Linked DNA regions of Homo sapiens. The protein of the gene in region 1 purifies or fractionates together with the protein of each later gene. This does not show direct contact. Each region holds a gene or a part of one and is shown in the gene's direction. Other genes may lie near its edges.

Region 1 (3,500 bases):
TAAATATCAGAAATATAGGCTATCTTGCAGTTTGAATTATCTGCAGAATGTACTGAACTGAGCCTTCAGCATTAAGCACTGAATAGTTCCTTGACCACCTTTTCCACCAGACTGTTCTGAGACCCCAGTTGAGGAGTTGAAGTTCCCAATAGATAGAGGTGCCCCTTTTTACACCCAGAATTTGCCAAACACCTCACCTCTTTTTTCAAATGAAAATGTACCTATTGTTTTGTCTGTTTTTGAAAGACAGCTCACGTATAGAAAGTCCAAATAATATAAAAACCGTAAAGAGGAAAAAATCACTTGAAATCCTAGAGGTGGGAATTATAATATATATGGTATTTTGAAACTTGTAATTTTTTTCACCTAATAGTATATTATAGAATATTTCATGTCAATTGTTATCACTTCATAAATTTTACTATTTGAATGTACCAAAATATAATTTAAAGAATAATATGTTAGTGGATATTTAGGCTACCTCATGTATTTTGAATTGATCAATAACACCACTGTGGGAACTCTTAGATGTACATTTTTGAAAAGTTGTCTGATTATATCTTTAGGGTAAATACTTAATAGTGAAAATCTGGATCAAAAAAATATGTATTTTAAAAATTTCAATACCTAGTTCTAAACTACTCTCCAGAAATGATTAGCGGGCCAGTATGTAACACCTCTGAAAGTGAGACAGCTCATTGAATGTTGTCTTTTTAAAATCTTTTCCAGTTACATAGGTTAGAGATGTAGCTCATTGTTTGTTTGTGGTTTTTTTCACATTATTTGATTACTTTGGAGGTTGAATATATTTTATATGTTTTCATTTTTTTCTTCTAAGAATTGTACATTTCTTGTCCATTGACCATTTTCTATTGAGATGTTTGTTTGTTATTATTGATTTCTAAGTTCTCTTGATATATTTAGGATATGAATCTTTCTTCTCAAATAAAAAATAAGAAATTTTTTTAGCTTATAAAATATATTTTATCTTTAATGATAGTTTTTAAAAAGTATTTTGAAGTTTTGAATTTTTTACAGACAAGTCTGTGACTCTCCTTGATGTTACCTGACTTTATTTCATTTTCCAAACTACAAAATTAAAAATATGCTATATTCATTTATGTTTTTAGTATTATTTTAGTTAATTTATATTTTACACTTAAGTATCTCTTCTCTTTATAATCTAATTTGCTTTTGAAGAAAGAACTGTAAAGGTCTAGGTTTTCTTTTCTCTCCAAATTGGTAACCAGTTATCTCTGTAGCACTTGTTGCCTATTTCATATTTTCCTATTGGTTTGAAAAGCTATCCAGTGAAACAATAAATTCCATTTTCATTGACATTTTTAGGAGCTCATTTTGTACAAAAGAAAGTCCATGAATGTGTGTGAAAGTTTAATGATACACTTAGCTATTAAAGTGGTTTTCTGCTCCCATGGAGATAATACCTGCATACATACTTAAATACGTACAAGTAAAGCAAAGTAAAATAAAACAGCCCTTTATTTTTCCATGTCTTTTAGATAAAATCTTTAACAAAGTAGTTCTAGAATGCTTTACATTCCAATTCTGGGTTGGAATCAGTATGTGAGGGAGAATAGTGGAGGTTGAGATTTGAAGAGTAAGATGGCAGGACATTTTTTCATATTGGATCTTGTCAACCATTTTAAGGACTTTGATTCTGGAGAAAATAGGAAGTCATTGGGAAATTTTAGGTTGAAAAGTAACATGATCTGATTTACTCAGAGTATCATTCTGGCAGCTGCAATGACAGCACAATGTGGAGAGGCAAGGATAGAAGCTGAAAGACCACTAAAGAAGAAGTTCCAATAATACAGAAAAGAGCTAGTGGTGGTTTGGACAAGGGTAGTAGCAGTAGAAGTGGTGAACAAAAATTCTGATATGTTTTGAAGGAAGAGACCATAGAATTTACTGATGGATTGATTAGATTTGGACTATCAGAGGAAAAGAGTCCAGGGTGACTCCAAGGTTTTTTGGCCTATACAACAGGAAAGATGAAGGGACTATTTATCAAGATGGGGAAACCTACAGAAGGAGCCTGAAATCAAAAGTATAGTTTCAGACATTTAATTAGAGATACATAATGCACATCCAAGTGAAGATGTATATTAGGCAGATGGATGCACTATATGGAGTTCCAGCACTGGAGTTAAAAAATTGGCAACATTTAGCAAAAAGATGATATTTACAGCCACAAGAGGAGATAAGATCACCATCACAGTGAGTATACATAGGTAAGAAGAGGACTAAGCCCTGGGGCACTCTAGCATTTAAGAGTCAAGAAGAGGGAGGAACAGCAAAGGGCACTAAGTAAGAAGGTGGGAAATAGGAGGGAAAGTCAGGGAAAGAAAATATTTCAAGAAAGGGTATCAGGTATGTTAAATGGTGCTGATGGTGAAATGATCAAGTAAGATAACCATTGAAACTTGACCGCTTAGCAACACGGAAGTCATTATTGAGGTCTGAGGTTGACAAGAACGGGCTGAGTGGACTGGTGGGGGTGAAAGCCTTCGTGGGTTGTGTTCAATACAGAGAATGAAAACAGAGGAAGCAGAGACAGCAAGTTTAGACAATCTTTTGAGAAGTGTTTCTATAATAAATGGGAGGAAAGAAACAAAGCAGTGGCTAAATGGAAGAAATTATAGCATGTTTATATGTTCATAGGAATGGTCTAGTGCAAAGGAAAGATTGAACATGCAGGAGAGAGGAGAACGATTACTGGAGTGATTTCCTTGAGTGGGTGACAGTATTGGGATTTAAAGCACAACTGGGGGAGCTGATCATGTGAGTACAGAAGGTTCATTCTTACAAACCTGGAGGAAAGGCGTAGCTTATGGGCACAGATGCAGGTGGTAGATAGATATGAAGGTAGGATAAGGCGAGATTTCTCTTTTTTATGCTGGTTTTTTTTTTCTTTGAATTTGAAGCACGGTCATCAACTGAGAGTGATGGTAGAAGAGTAGGTTTGGAAATTTAACAAGAAAGACGTATAAAATAGAAGAATGAACACATTATAGAAAAGAGGTAGAATTTCAGGCTGTGCCAAAGACCCACATAAGAATAGTGGGTACGAATTTAAAGTCAGTTAATGTGATTGTGTTTTTTCTCCAGCCATTGTTGACTTCATGGCTACAGCTGTAAAACAGTCATTAAAATGATTTAACTAGAGTTGAGGTTTTTCCTAGTTGAGAATGACAAAGGGCACTGGAGATGTATGCAGGGCAGCAAATGTAATGATGGATGATAGAATATAAACTGTATAAAGAGTGAAGACATTGAAAAGGTGGTAAGTAAACACATGGGGTGTGGGTTGCAGTGGAGTCAAAGAATTATAGTTGGGGTACTGATCTGGCAAGGTACGAGGTGGTGGTGGTCAGAAGTGAATAACTGTTCCAACTCCTTACTCTTACTGTGTGTCTTATTGTAATTAAAGCTTTGACACACTTAATATCTAATAATTTCCAACTTTCTATTAAGCTAAG
Region 2 (3,500 bases), on another chromosome or scaffold:
TCTCAGCCTTGTTACTAACATACTCTGATTTAGGGCAAGTCAAACAATTTATAATTATTTAAAGTTTTTTTTATAGTTGGAGAGTATACTTTTGGTTGGGCAAATAAAAGTTTTAAAAGAGGAATGAAGATGGCAGTATGTTAAAATACACATTTACTTGCAGCATTTAAAGGAGTACAGCTGGGCGGGGTGACTCATGCCTGTAATCCCAGAATTTTGGGAGGCCGAGGCAAGTGGATCACTTGAGGCCAGGAGTTTGAGACCAGCCTGGCCAACATGGCGAAACCCCATGTCTACTAAAAATAAAAATATTATCTGGGCATGTGCCTGTAGTCCTAGCTACTTGGGAGGCTGAGGCACACCTTGAAGCAGAGGTTGCAGTGAGCCGAGATCATGTCACTGCACTCCAGCCTGGGTGACAGTGAGACTGTCTCAAAAAAAGGAAAATTAATTAAAGGAATACAAATGTTAAAATGCAAATAGGCACTTTGCACTTACTCTTTTGAAAAAAATTATAATGTAAAAGTGTAAGTAAATGTAAGAAAAAGAAACATCTAAGTATGTACTCATCTTTCCTGTCTTACCTGTGTCCTTGTCCCACCACTTGAACCAATCTTTGGTTCACAGAATATCTCTACTGTTTTTAAATGACGGGCTCTAAACCAAAGACAGAAGAGTGCTTTAGATGAATATTATTAGGGGTAGGATGTGAACTGCATTCATAAATGCCAAACTCCAGGGATGAGTTGAGTTAAGTTCTATTGGGTTTGTATGTACTGAGAGAAGAGAAAAGGATTTTCTGCTTTTTTTTTTTTTTTTTTTTTTTTTTCCAGCTGGAGTTTCTCTCTTGTTGCCCAGGCTGGAGTGCAATGGTGTGATCTCAGCTCACTGCAACCTCCGCCTCCCGGGTTCAAGTGATTCTCTTACCTCAGCCTTCCTGAGTAGCTGGGATTACAAGCATGCACCACCATGCTGGCTAATTTTGTATTTTTAGTAGAGACAGGGATTCTCCATGTTGGTCAGGCTGGTCTCGAACTCCCAACCTCAGGTGATCCGCCCTCCTCGGCCTCCCAAAGTGCTGGGACTACAGGCATGAGCCACCGCACCCGGCGAGAAAAGGATTTCTCGTCAGGGTAGAAAAGTCTGCAGTAATGCAGGGTAGAAAAGTCTGCAGTAATGCAGGGTTTGTGTAACAAATAGTTCGATAGTATTTCATACTACTGACTAGCAGGTAAGATGATCTTACCTGCTATTTTGCCCTGGAAGGTCACAGCATACAAATATTTTCTGTGACAGATGTTTTACCCTTTTTCCTTCTCAAAAGTATTCTGGTTTGTATAATAACTTGTAAATTTTCAGAAGAGATTAGAGGTTTACTGTGTGCTTATTGGCAAGACTTTCTTTCCTGCTATACTAACAAAGTAACATAATGCACGTAAGTGGGTACTGAAATATTTGTTACATTGGGTATGGCAGGCTGGGTGGGCGTGGCTCATACCTGTAATCCCAGCACTTTGGGAGGCTGAGGTGGGAGGATTACTTGAGTTCAGGAGTTCAAGACCAGTCTGGGCAACATAGTGACACCCCATGTCTTAAAAATTTTTTTTTTAAATATATTGGCTGTGGAAAATGTAAATTTATAGGGCAGAAAGTTGCAGTTGAGCAAGATAATGAAAATAGGATTATTTTTGCCTTTTGAGTTGGAGGAAGAAAAAAAATAGGAGGGCAGTGACTGAGTAAAATTAAGATACATTTATATACAAGGTTACATAAAAGATTTTTTTTTTCTTTGACCAGCAGGCAAGAAGAAAACAATGTCTAGAAACATGGACTCTGGGGCCAGCCTGCCTGGGTCTAAATCTCTGCTGAGACTGAGCCACTTTTTGTTTAATCTCTCTGCTTCCTTATCTGTAAATTGAGGACAATAATATGGGAGGGTAATATTAATATCTATCACGTAGGGATGTTAAGAAGATTGACAGAATAAAACATTTAGAGTTGTAGGCTGGGCGTGGTGGCTCACACCTGTAATACTAGCACTTAGGGAGGCAGACAGGAGGACTGATTGAGGCCAGGAGTTCAAGACCCAACCAGGGCCAGGTGCAGTGGCTCATGCCTGTAATCCCAGCACTTTGGGAGGCCAAGGCTGGTGGATCACTTGAGGTCAGGAGTTTGAGACCAGCCTGGCCAACATGGCAAAACCCCATCTCTACCAAAAAATATACAAAAAAAATTAGGCGGGTATAGTGGCACATGCCTGTAAGGGGCTGCATAGAGGGCTGAGGCAGGAGAATGGCTTGAACCCAGGAGGTGGAGGTTGCAGTGAGCTGAGATTGTGCCACTGCACTCCAGCCTGGATGACATAGCAAGATTCTGTCTCAAAAAAAAAAAAGAAAAGAAAAAGAATTATTATTATTATTATTATTTTTTTAAGATGGCGTTTCGCTCTTATTGCCCAGGCTGGAGCGATCTTGACTCATTGCAACTTCCGCCTCCCAGGTTCAGGCGATTGATTCTCTTGCCTCAGCCTCCTGAGTAGCTGAGATTACACACAGGTACCACCATGCGTGGCTAATTTTGTATTTTTAGTAGAGACGGGGTTTCTCCATGTTGGTCAGGCTGGTCTCGAACTCCTGCTCTCAGGTGATCTGCCCACCTCAGCCTCTCAAAGTGCTGGGATTACAGGTGTGAGCCACCACGCCCGGCAAAAAAAAAAAAAAGAACTATTTTGATATTTAATATTGATGCTTGAGGTTGAGGTATATTTAAGTTCGTTTGTGTAGTTAGCCATTAGCTTTATCAGCTGACTAATTGAAGTAATGGCTTAGTATTTTGAGGATTAAATACTAAATGTTAGATACCTTTTTTTAATAGAGACAGGGTCTTGCTATGTTGGCTAGGCTGGTTTGAACTCCTGGCCTCAAACGATCCTCCCATCTTGGCCTCCCAAAGTGCTGCGATTACAGGTGTGAGGAGCCACAACACCCAGTCTGTTAGACGTCTATTAATACAGGATTCTTTATCTTTTTTTTTTTTTTTTTGAGATGGAATCTCGCTGTTGCCCAGGCTGGAGTGCAGTAGTGCAATCTCTGCTCACTGCAGTCACCACCTCCTGGGTTCACGCCATTCTCCTGCCTCAGCCTCCCAAGTAGCTGGGATTACAGGCGCCCACCACCACGCCTGGTTATTTTTTGTATTTTTAGTAGAGACAGGGTTTCATCGTGTTAGTCAGGATGGTCTCGATCTCCTGACCTCATGATCCGCCCTCCTCAGCCTCCCAAAGTGCTGGGATTACAGGCGTGAGCCACGGTACCCGGCCTAGAATTCTTTATTTTTAATGAAAATATTCATGAATCTCATGTTGAACTTTCTAGGGAGAAATTTGTAACTTTGATTATATTTTCAGAGTGATTCGTGACCCCCAAAAGGTTAAGTGCCACTAATCGATGGTGGCGTCAGGTTCTTTTGATGAATGACAGATACTGTCTGATTGAGATAGT
Region 3 (4,060 bases), on another chromosome or scaffold:
ATACATGCATATGGTAAAGCAAAATGTTGAAAAGTATATCAAGGTGTTAAATAGCAAGTGCAAGTATTATTCCAGCTCCCAGTACCCTCCTCAGAGGCAACTACTTTTTTTTTTTTTTTTTGAGATGGAGTCTCGCTCTGTCGCCCAGGCTGGAGTGCAGTGGCGCAATCTTGGCTTACTGTAACTTCCGTCTCCCGGTTCAAGCAATTCTCTGCCTCAGCCTCCTGAGTTGCTGGGACTACAGGCGCCCGCTACCACGCCCAGCTAATTTTTGTATTTTTAGTAGAGACGGGGTTTCACCATCTCGGCCAGGCTGGTCTTGAACTAACGTCGTGATCAACCCGCCTCGGCCTCCCAAAGTGCTGGGATTACAGACATGAGCCACCGCCCCCAGCCAATTAAACGTTTTTTTTAAAAAAATAAATGCAATGGAATGCAATGAAGCTATCAAAAATGCCACTGAGGGAGAATATTTATTGACAAATTCAAATGTTCAAGGCATATTCTTAAGTAGGGAAGCGCCAAACTTTCTAAATGGAGCCGGTGTTCTTTTTGTAACTGAGAAGATTTAGTTTAAAAAAAATATATATATATATACACACACACACACACACATATACATACATACATCCGTTGGCTTCACAGTAGCTGGCACCTCCCTCCCCTTTGCTTCAGGCACTTCCTGGGAGTCCTCGTCCATTCTCACCTCAGCGACGAAACCCCTCCACATACCCTGTTTCTCCTCACATTTATCCCCGAAAATGTTATATAATTATGTGTATGGCTTATTGTCTGCTCCCTACCCCCCAAAAAAATGTTCTCCAGGGCAGTGACGTTTCTTTCATTGATTGATACATGTGAAACCACTTGCAACCGTGCTTGGCACACAGCAGGTGCTCAGTGCCCCTCTGGTGAATAACTGAGGGGCACTAGGTCTGTTCTGGGCCGTTTTCCTGCCGCCCACGCCCTCCCTCCCGAAATTCCCACAGACACAGAGTTGCAAGTTACTGCCCTCAGCGAACCTCCCCTTATCTTCCCTATAACCAGGAACCTGGGGCCCTCCAGCTCACAGGGGCCCTCTTGTGGCATGTGGGCGCGTAACAGCTCAGCCGGGACCCCGCCTCAAACGCATGGAACTACACTTCCCCGAATGCAGGTGTCCTCTCGTGGACTCCATTTCCCAGCGGCCTCAGCGGCTGCCCCGCCCCTCCTGGTCCCCGGCGCGCCGCGGGGTGAGCGGCGCCGGGCCTGAGGTCGCCCAGACGCCGTCGGGGCGGAGCCGGGTCGCGAGGCTGCATCCCGGCCGGCGGTTCCGGAGCCTCGCGGCTGGGGAGGCGCGGCCCGGGACGCTCGAGCTTAGGGAGGTGAGCGTCGGCGGCAGGCCAAGCCGGTAGGAGGCGGCGCCCGGCACGGGGACTGCCTGCGGCTGCCGAGGCTCCGAAAGCCTTTGTGGGCGCTGGCGGGCACCCCCGCGTCTGTCACCGGCCCCCGCGCCGGGATCTGGACTCTCGCCCCCCCGCGGGGCGCTCCCTCGCCGTTGCTGGTGCACCCGCGTCCGGCTCGCCGTGGACGCCGGGCCTGGCGTTTCCTCCCGGGCCCGTCCTGCCCACTCCATGTGGGCCTCGCGGACTCGGGGCACCGGGACCCCGAGGGCAGGGCGGACGCAGCCGGGCCCCGGTTTCCGAGTCCGTCCCCAGGACGGCCACCCCTCCCGCCTCGGGACACCCAGCGCTTTCCTCTTCAGAGCTGGTGTTTGGCCGGGCGCGGTGGCTCACGCCTGTAATCCCAGCACTTTGGGAGGCCGAAGCGGGTGGATCACGAGGTCAGGAGATCGAGACCATCCTGACTAACACGGTGAAACCCCGTCTCTACTAAAAATACAAAAAAAATTAGCCGGGCGTAGTGGCGGGCGCCTGTAGTCCCAGCTACTTGTGAGGCCGAGGCAGGAGAATGGCGTGAACCCAGGAGGCGGAGCTTGCAGTGAGCCGAGATCAAGCCCTGCACTCCAGCCTGAGCGACAGAGCGAGACTCCGTCTCAAAAAAGAAACATCGTGTTAGAAATGGGATACATGGGGTCGGGCGTGGTGGCTCACGCCTGTAATCCTAGATTTTTGGGATGCCAAGGCGGGCAGATCACCTGAGATCAGGAGTTCGAGACCAGCCTGGGCAACACGGTGAAACCTCGTCTCTACTAAAAATACAAAAATGAGCCGGGCGCCTGTAGTCCCAGCTACTCGGGAGGCTGAGGCAGGAGAATGGCTTGAACCCGGGAGGCAGAGCTTGCAGTGAGCCGAGATCCTGCCACTGCGCTACTGCACTCCAGTCTGGCCAACAGAGCGAGACTCCGCCTCAAAAAAAAAAAAGCCGTTTTCCGTGGAGTCGGGAGATGATTCGTTGGCGGGAGAGAGAGGAACCGGCTGGGAAAGGCTTGAGGCGGAGGGAAGTCGTCCCGGGGCCGTCGTGGTGGGAGTCCCGGCCCGCCTCGCAGCGGCGTGAACGGGGCAGGTGCCCCGGCGCTGCCTCAGTTTCCTGAGCGGTGCAGTGGGTGCTGGCAGTGCCAGCTGGCGCCGAGGAACTCAGCGGCGTGGGGCGAGCCCTGGCCCTGGTGGGCTCAGCGGGTCGCTGCTGCCACTGCGGCTCCAGCGTCCCCTCCGTAAGCCCCAAGCCTGTGGGGCCTGGGCCTGGCCGGGCGGCCCAGCGCTGCTCTGGTCCGCGGGCTCCTGGCTCCTCCCGAATCCCTGTGAGGGCGCGCGGGGTCCTTCTCAGCGGGAGTCGGGGTTTTAGAGCTGCGGATTCCAGGGCTGGAAAGCAGAAGGGGTTCTTCCTGGCTCCCTTTTTCTTCTCAGATCTGCCTTCTGGAGACTGCGCCGTCCTCCCGGGAGAGCCAGAAAGAGGACATGGCTGCTGGGCAGCGGGAAGCGAGGCCCCAGGTGAGCTCATTGCCCTCCCAGATCCCAGTGGATGGATTTTCCCCACTAACTGGAGTTCTTCACCCGGGACCATCTCCAGCCAGGATGGAGCCCAAGTCCTTTTCTCTTGGAGGAGCTGGTCCGCCCTCATGAGTGGTGGATTCTGTAGGGAGGACCACCCACCCTCCCCACCCGTGTCTAGTGGTTCTCTTTTTTTTTTTTTTTTTTGAATCTCGCTTTGTCGCCCAGGCAGTGGCGGGATCTCGGCTCGCTGCAACCTCTGCCTCCCAGGTTGAAGCAATTCTCCTGCCTCAGCCTCCCAAGTAGCTGGGATTACAGGCTCCCGCCATCACGCCCGGCTAAGTTTTTTTTTTTGTGCTTTTATTAGAGATGGGGTTTCACCACGTTGGCCAGGCTGGTCTCAAACTCCTGACCTCAGGTGATCCACCCGCCTCAGCCTCCCAAAGTGCTGGGATTACAGATGTGCGCCACTGCACCCAGCCCGAATAAATCATTTTCTGTACACATTTATTTGTGTGTGTGTGTTTGTGTATGCATGTTACCATCTATGTTACCATTTTAACCTTTTTTTATTGTGGCAAAATATATATAACATAAAATATACCATTTTAACTTTTTAAGTGTATAATTCAGTGGTATTTTAGGTACTTCCGCATTGCTGTGCAGCCATCATCGCTATCCATCTTTATTGTGTAGATTATCACATTTATTTCTTAACCCTAAGGGGCAGGCATTAAAAGGCAGTTTTACAGAGTAGTTAAGAATGCAAGCTCAGTGAGACATCTGCTGGATTTGAATTACACAAGAAAAAACAAAGTCACAGAGAGGATACAAAATTTGTAGAAGTCAGCCGGCCACAGTGGCTCACACCTGTAATCCCAGCACTTTGGGAGGTCGAGGCCGGCAGATCGCCTGAGGTTAGGAGTTTGAGACCAGCATGGTGGAACCCTGTCTCTACTAAAAATACAAAAATTAGCCGGGCATGGTGTCTAGCACCTGTAATCCCACCTACTCAGGAGGCCGAGGCAAGAGAATCATTGGAACCCGGAAGGTGGAGGTTACAGTAAGCCAAGATCATGCCATTGCACTCCAGCCTAGGCAACAAGAGCCAAACTCTGTCTCAAAGAAAA
Region 4 (3,500 bases), on another chromosome or scaffold:
CAGCTGGCTTCACCCAGTGGATCCTGCACCGGGGCTGCAGGTGGAGCTGCCTGCCAATCCCATGCCGTGCGCCTGCACTCCCCAGCCCTTTGGTGGTCGATGGGACTGGGCGTCGTGGAGCAGGGGGTGGCGCTCCTCGGGGAGGCTCGGGCCGCACAGGAGCCCATGGAGGGGGTGGGAGGCTCAGGCATAGCGGGCTGCAGGTCCCGAACCCTGCCCTGCGGGAAGGCAGCTAAGGCCCGGTGAGAAATCGAGCGTAGCGCCAGTGGGTTGGCACTGCTGGGGGACCCAGTACATCCTCCGCAGCCACTGGCCCGGGTGCTAAGCCCCTCACTGCCCGGGGCCGGCAGGGCCTGCAGGGCCGGCCGGCTGCTCCGAGTGCGGGGCCCGCCAAGCCCACGCCCACCTGGAACTCCAGCTGGCCCGCAAGCGCCGCGCAGCCCTGGTTCCCACTCGCGCCTCTCCCTCCACACCTCCCTGCAAGCTGAGGGAGCCGGCTCCGGCCTTGGCCAGCCCAGAAACGGGCTCCCACAGCGCAGCGGTGGGCTGAAGGGCTCCTCAAGTGCCGTCAAAGTGGGAGCCCAGGCAGAGGAGGTGCGGAGAGCAAGCGAGGGCTCTGAGGACTGCCAGCACGCTGTCACCTCTCAAGAAGAATCCAGGTGGGGCTTTGTGCCTTTCCCACACTTTGGCCATTCCGTCCTCCAGGCCTGCAGCACCCATAGCTGCGATCTCAGCCTTTCCCAGGGAGTGGAGGTCAGTGGGGCAGATCCTGAGGATGGGCGCACACTCCTGCCTCGGCAGCTTCCAGGACTTCTGTTTCAGGCCCAGCCCACGCTGAGCTCTAGTGTTTTAGTGAGATCATGGCTGGAATCTTTCCTGCTTGTCTGGTGCCCAGCATTTTGCCCCTGTGCTCGGCCATCGTAGAGCCAGAAGAGCCAGTGCTTCCTCTGTCTCTCATTGGAGGAAGCAGGCCTGTCCTTAGCTTCTAGCTGCTGGCTTTCCCCAAGACTTCAGCTCTGTGATGGCTGCAACAAAAGTTATGATGCTGTGGGTTATCTGGTTTCTTCTTAACTGGTAAGAGCAGGAGTGATGCACTTTCTGGCTTTTTACATTCTAGGTGGAAGCGGAACTCCAGCATTTGTTCCTGGGGGTGCACTAGGATGTGTTGGATTTGGATGTTGTCGGCAGCTGTGTGTTGTGTGAAGAGCAGGGCTCTAGAGTCAGCTAGACTTGGTTTCAGTCCTAGGCCAGCCACTTGTTGCCATTTCATCGCAGTCACGTACCTCTTCCAGTCTCAGCTTCCTTATTCATAAAATCAGAAAAAAAACACCGTGTTGGAGATGTGAGATTAAATGAAATACATAAAATGTCTAGCTGAGTGTCTGGTATATATTAGGCATTCAGTAAATCACAGCTGGTTTAATCAATACAAAAGCATTAGTATAGTGTATTATTACAGAATGCCATCAGTCATGTCAGGCACTATTTTCCAGTTCCCTTCTTGATGATACTCATTTGTGTAGTAGCATTTTTCTTACTTCAAAACAGTAGGTTGATGTCTTCAGGGAAAGATCTGTGTTCATTACTAGGTCCTTTTTGCTAACTCCTCACATCCAAATTATATCACCATTTTGCAAACCTAGTGACTTAATGAGTTTAGGCATTTAGTAGCAGCAGCTGCAGTCATTGACAAAAGGGTAAAAACCAGTCATAACATGACTCCCTGGAAAGAACACAACACCCACCAGCAGTCGCGACAAAGGGGTCATGTCTGAGTCTGATCCATCCTTTTGATGCAGCTGCCAGTTTACAAGAAATATAGAGGACAAAGGTTTGTGTTAAACTACTTGATGAGCTTGCAGTCACAAAATCCAGGCTGTGGGGAATTCTGCAGGCCAAATAGTGAGAGATAAAGAGATACAGAGAAAACTCTGTAAATTAAACAAGATTCAAAAGACATATCAGGTCAAAAGTATAGACAAGACCAAAGTATGATGTCTAAGAATAGACACTTGGTTGATAAAACCACAAAGATGTGCAGGGAAGTAGTTCCTATAAAAATGGGAATGGTGGTTGCCTTTGGAGGGAAGGAGGGGCTGCAACGGGAAAGGGCCACAGAGAGGCTTCTGAGTGGGCTACAAGGCACGTTGAGCTGTTGTTAATTCACTCAGCTATACGTAGTTTGTGCACTCTTCTATATGGGTGTTTCACAGTAAAGAGGAAAACTCACGTCTTTCACAACTGTTTATATGTGTGTTAGATACGGACTGCAGCTAAGATGTCAGTTTTTAGTTCTTGTATGGTTCTCAGGGATTCATATACATGGTTCATCTGTTTTCTCATGGTTATGATTCCTAAGAAAGTATGGGTTGTGTCTCCACTAATATCTTTATAAGTTGTGTGTTATTTTTTGAGTTATTACTAAATATTTATTCAAAGAGATGAAATGTCCACCCAGGAATTCTTGTCATGTGTGTTAAGAGTTGAAAACAGCTAGATTTTTTTCTAGTGACTTTGAGGCTAAGAAATTTACCTTGTCTCTCTTTTCTTTCTTTCTTTTTTTTTTTTTGGTGTAGACGTAAAATTCATCCTGATCAGAAAAATATTAATGCCTATGTTGTGTTTAAGGAGGAGAGTGCTGCCACGCAAGCATTGAAAAGGTAATTTTATCCCTTAGGTTTGAACAGAATAATTGTCCTATAAGTATGTATGAGTACTTTTTTTATTCTTTGGTTTCACTTTAGCATAGATGTTTTAGTAATCGAGTGCTCATTTTTAACAACCATTTTCCCTTTGTATTTATAATACAGAAATGGGGCCCAGATTGCAGATGGATTTCGTATTAGAGTTGATCTCGCATCTGAGACCTCATCTGTAAGTAGTACTTGATTTGTTTAAAGAACGAGAGCTTTGTAGAGAGAAATGTTTCCTTCCAGGCTTTTCCTGGAAGGGGACTGGAATCAGCAATGTGAGGGAAGCGCAGAAGGAAACAGCCTATGTCCTCTGTGGTTACAGAGTTGATGGCAAGAGAGGCACAAGGACCGAGGTCAACATTCCCTTCAAAAACGTAGTCCTGGCTGGGCACAATGGCTCATGCCTGTAATCCTAACATTTTGGGAGGCCAAGGCGGGAGGATCACTTGAGCCCAGGAGTTAAGAGCAGCCTGAGCAATGTAGCAAGACCCTGCCTTTACAAAAAAAAAAAAAAAAATTAGTCAAGTGTGTGATGCATGCCGACAGTCCCAGCTACTCAGAAGGCTGAGGTGGGAGCACCACCTGAGCCCAGGAGTTTGAGGCTGCAGTGAGCTGTAGTCGTGCCACTGCATTCTAGCCTGGGCAACAGAGGGCGACCCTGTTTCTTAAAAAGAAACAAAAACATAGTCCTCTTCAAATAAGCATAATTAGGTCAGAAGGTACATTAGACATCATCTGGTCTAACACATTATAGACCGAGGTCTAGAAAGTTCAATTATTCATTAGACAGTTTTTAGTACACACTCT

Evidence for each region. Proteins that work in one complex are often made in the same cells at the same time.
Region 2: the proteins of LIN28B (region 1) and LARP4 purify together in Homo sapiens (affinity purification with mass spectrometry; 2 studies listed by BioGRID and IntAct, with this or other methods). This does not show direct contact.
Region 3: the proteins of LIN28B (region 1) and ZNF354A purify together in Homo sapiens (affinity purification with mass spectrometry; one large-scale study listed by BioGRID and IntAct). This does not show direct contact.
Region 4: the proteins of LIN28B (region 1) and RBM34 purify together in Homo sapiens (affinity purification with mass spectrometry; 2 studies listed by BioGRID and IntAct, with this or other methods). This does not show direct contact.

What each region holds. Positions count from the first base shown.
Region 1 is NC_000006.12:105,026,607-105,030,106, forward strand, and holds part of LIN28B (protein lin-28 homolog B), read left to right. Parts: intron 1-3,500. UniProt on the Homo sapiens protein: Suppressor of microRNA (miRNA) biogenesis, including that of let-7 and possibly of miR107, miR-143 and miR-200c.
Region 2 is NC_000012.12:50,407,385-50,410,884, forward strand, and holds part of LARP4 (la-related protein 4), read left to right. Parts: intron 1-3,500. UniProt on the Homo sapiens protein: RNA binding protein that binds to the poly-A tract of mRNA molecules. Associates with the 40S ribosomal subunit and with polysomes. Plays a role in the regulation of mRNA translation.
Region 3 is NC_000005.10:178,727,860-178,731,919, reverse strand, and holds the start of ZNF354A (zinc finger protein 354A), read left to right. Parts: upstream 1-1,260; 5' UTR 1,261-1,364; exon of another isoform or gene 1,365-1,854; intron 1,855-2,296; exon of another isoform or gene 2,297-2,846; 5' UTR 2,847-2,897; coding exon 2,898-2,930; intron 2,931-4,060.
Region 4 is NC_000001.11:235,137,251-235,140,750, reverse strand, and holds part of RBM34 (RNA-binding protein 34), read left to right. Parts: intron 1-2,576; coding exon 2,577-2,660; intron 2,661-2,810; coding exon 2,811-2,874; intron 2,875-3,500.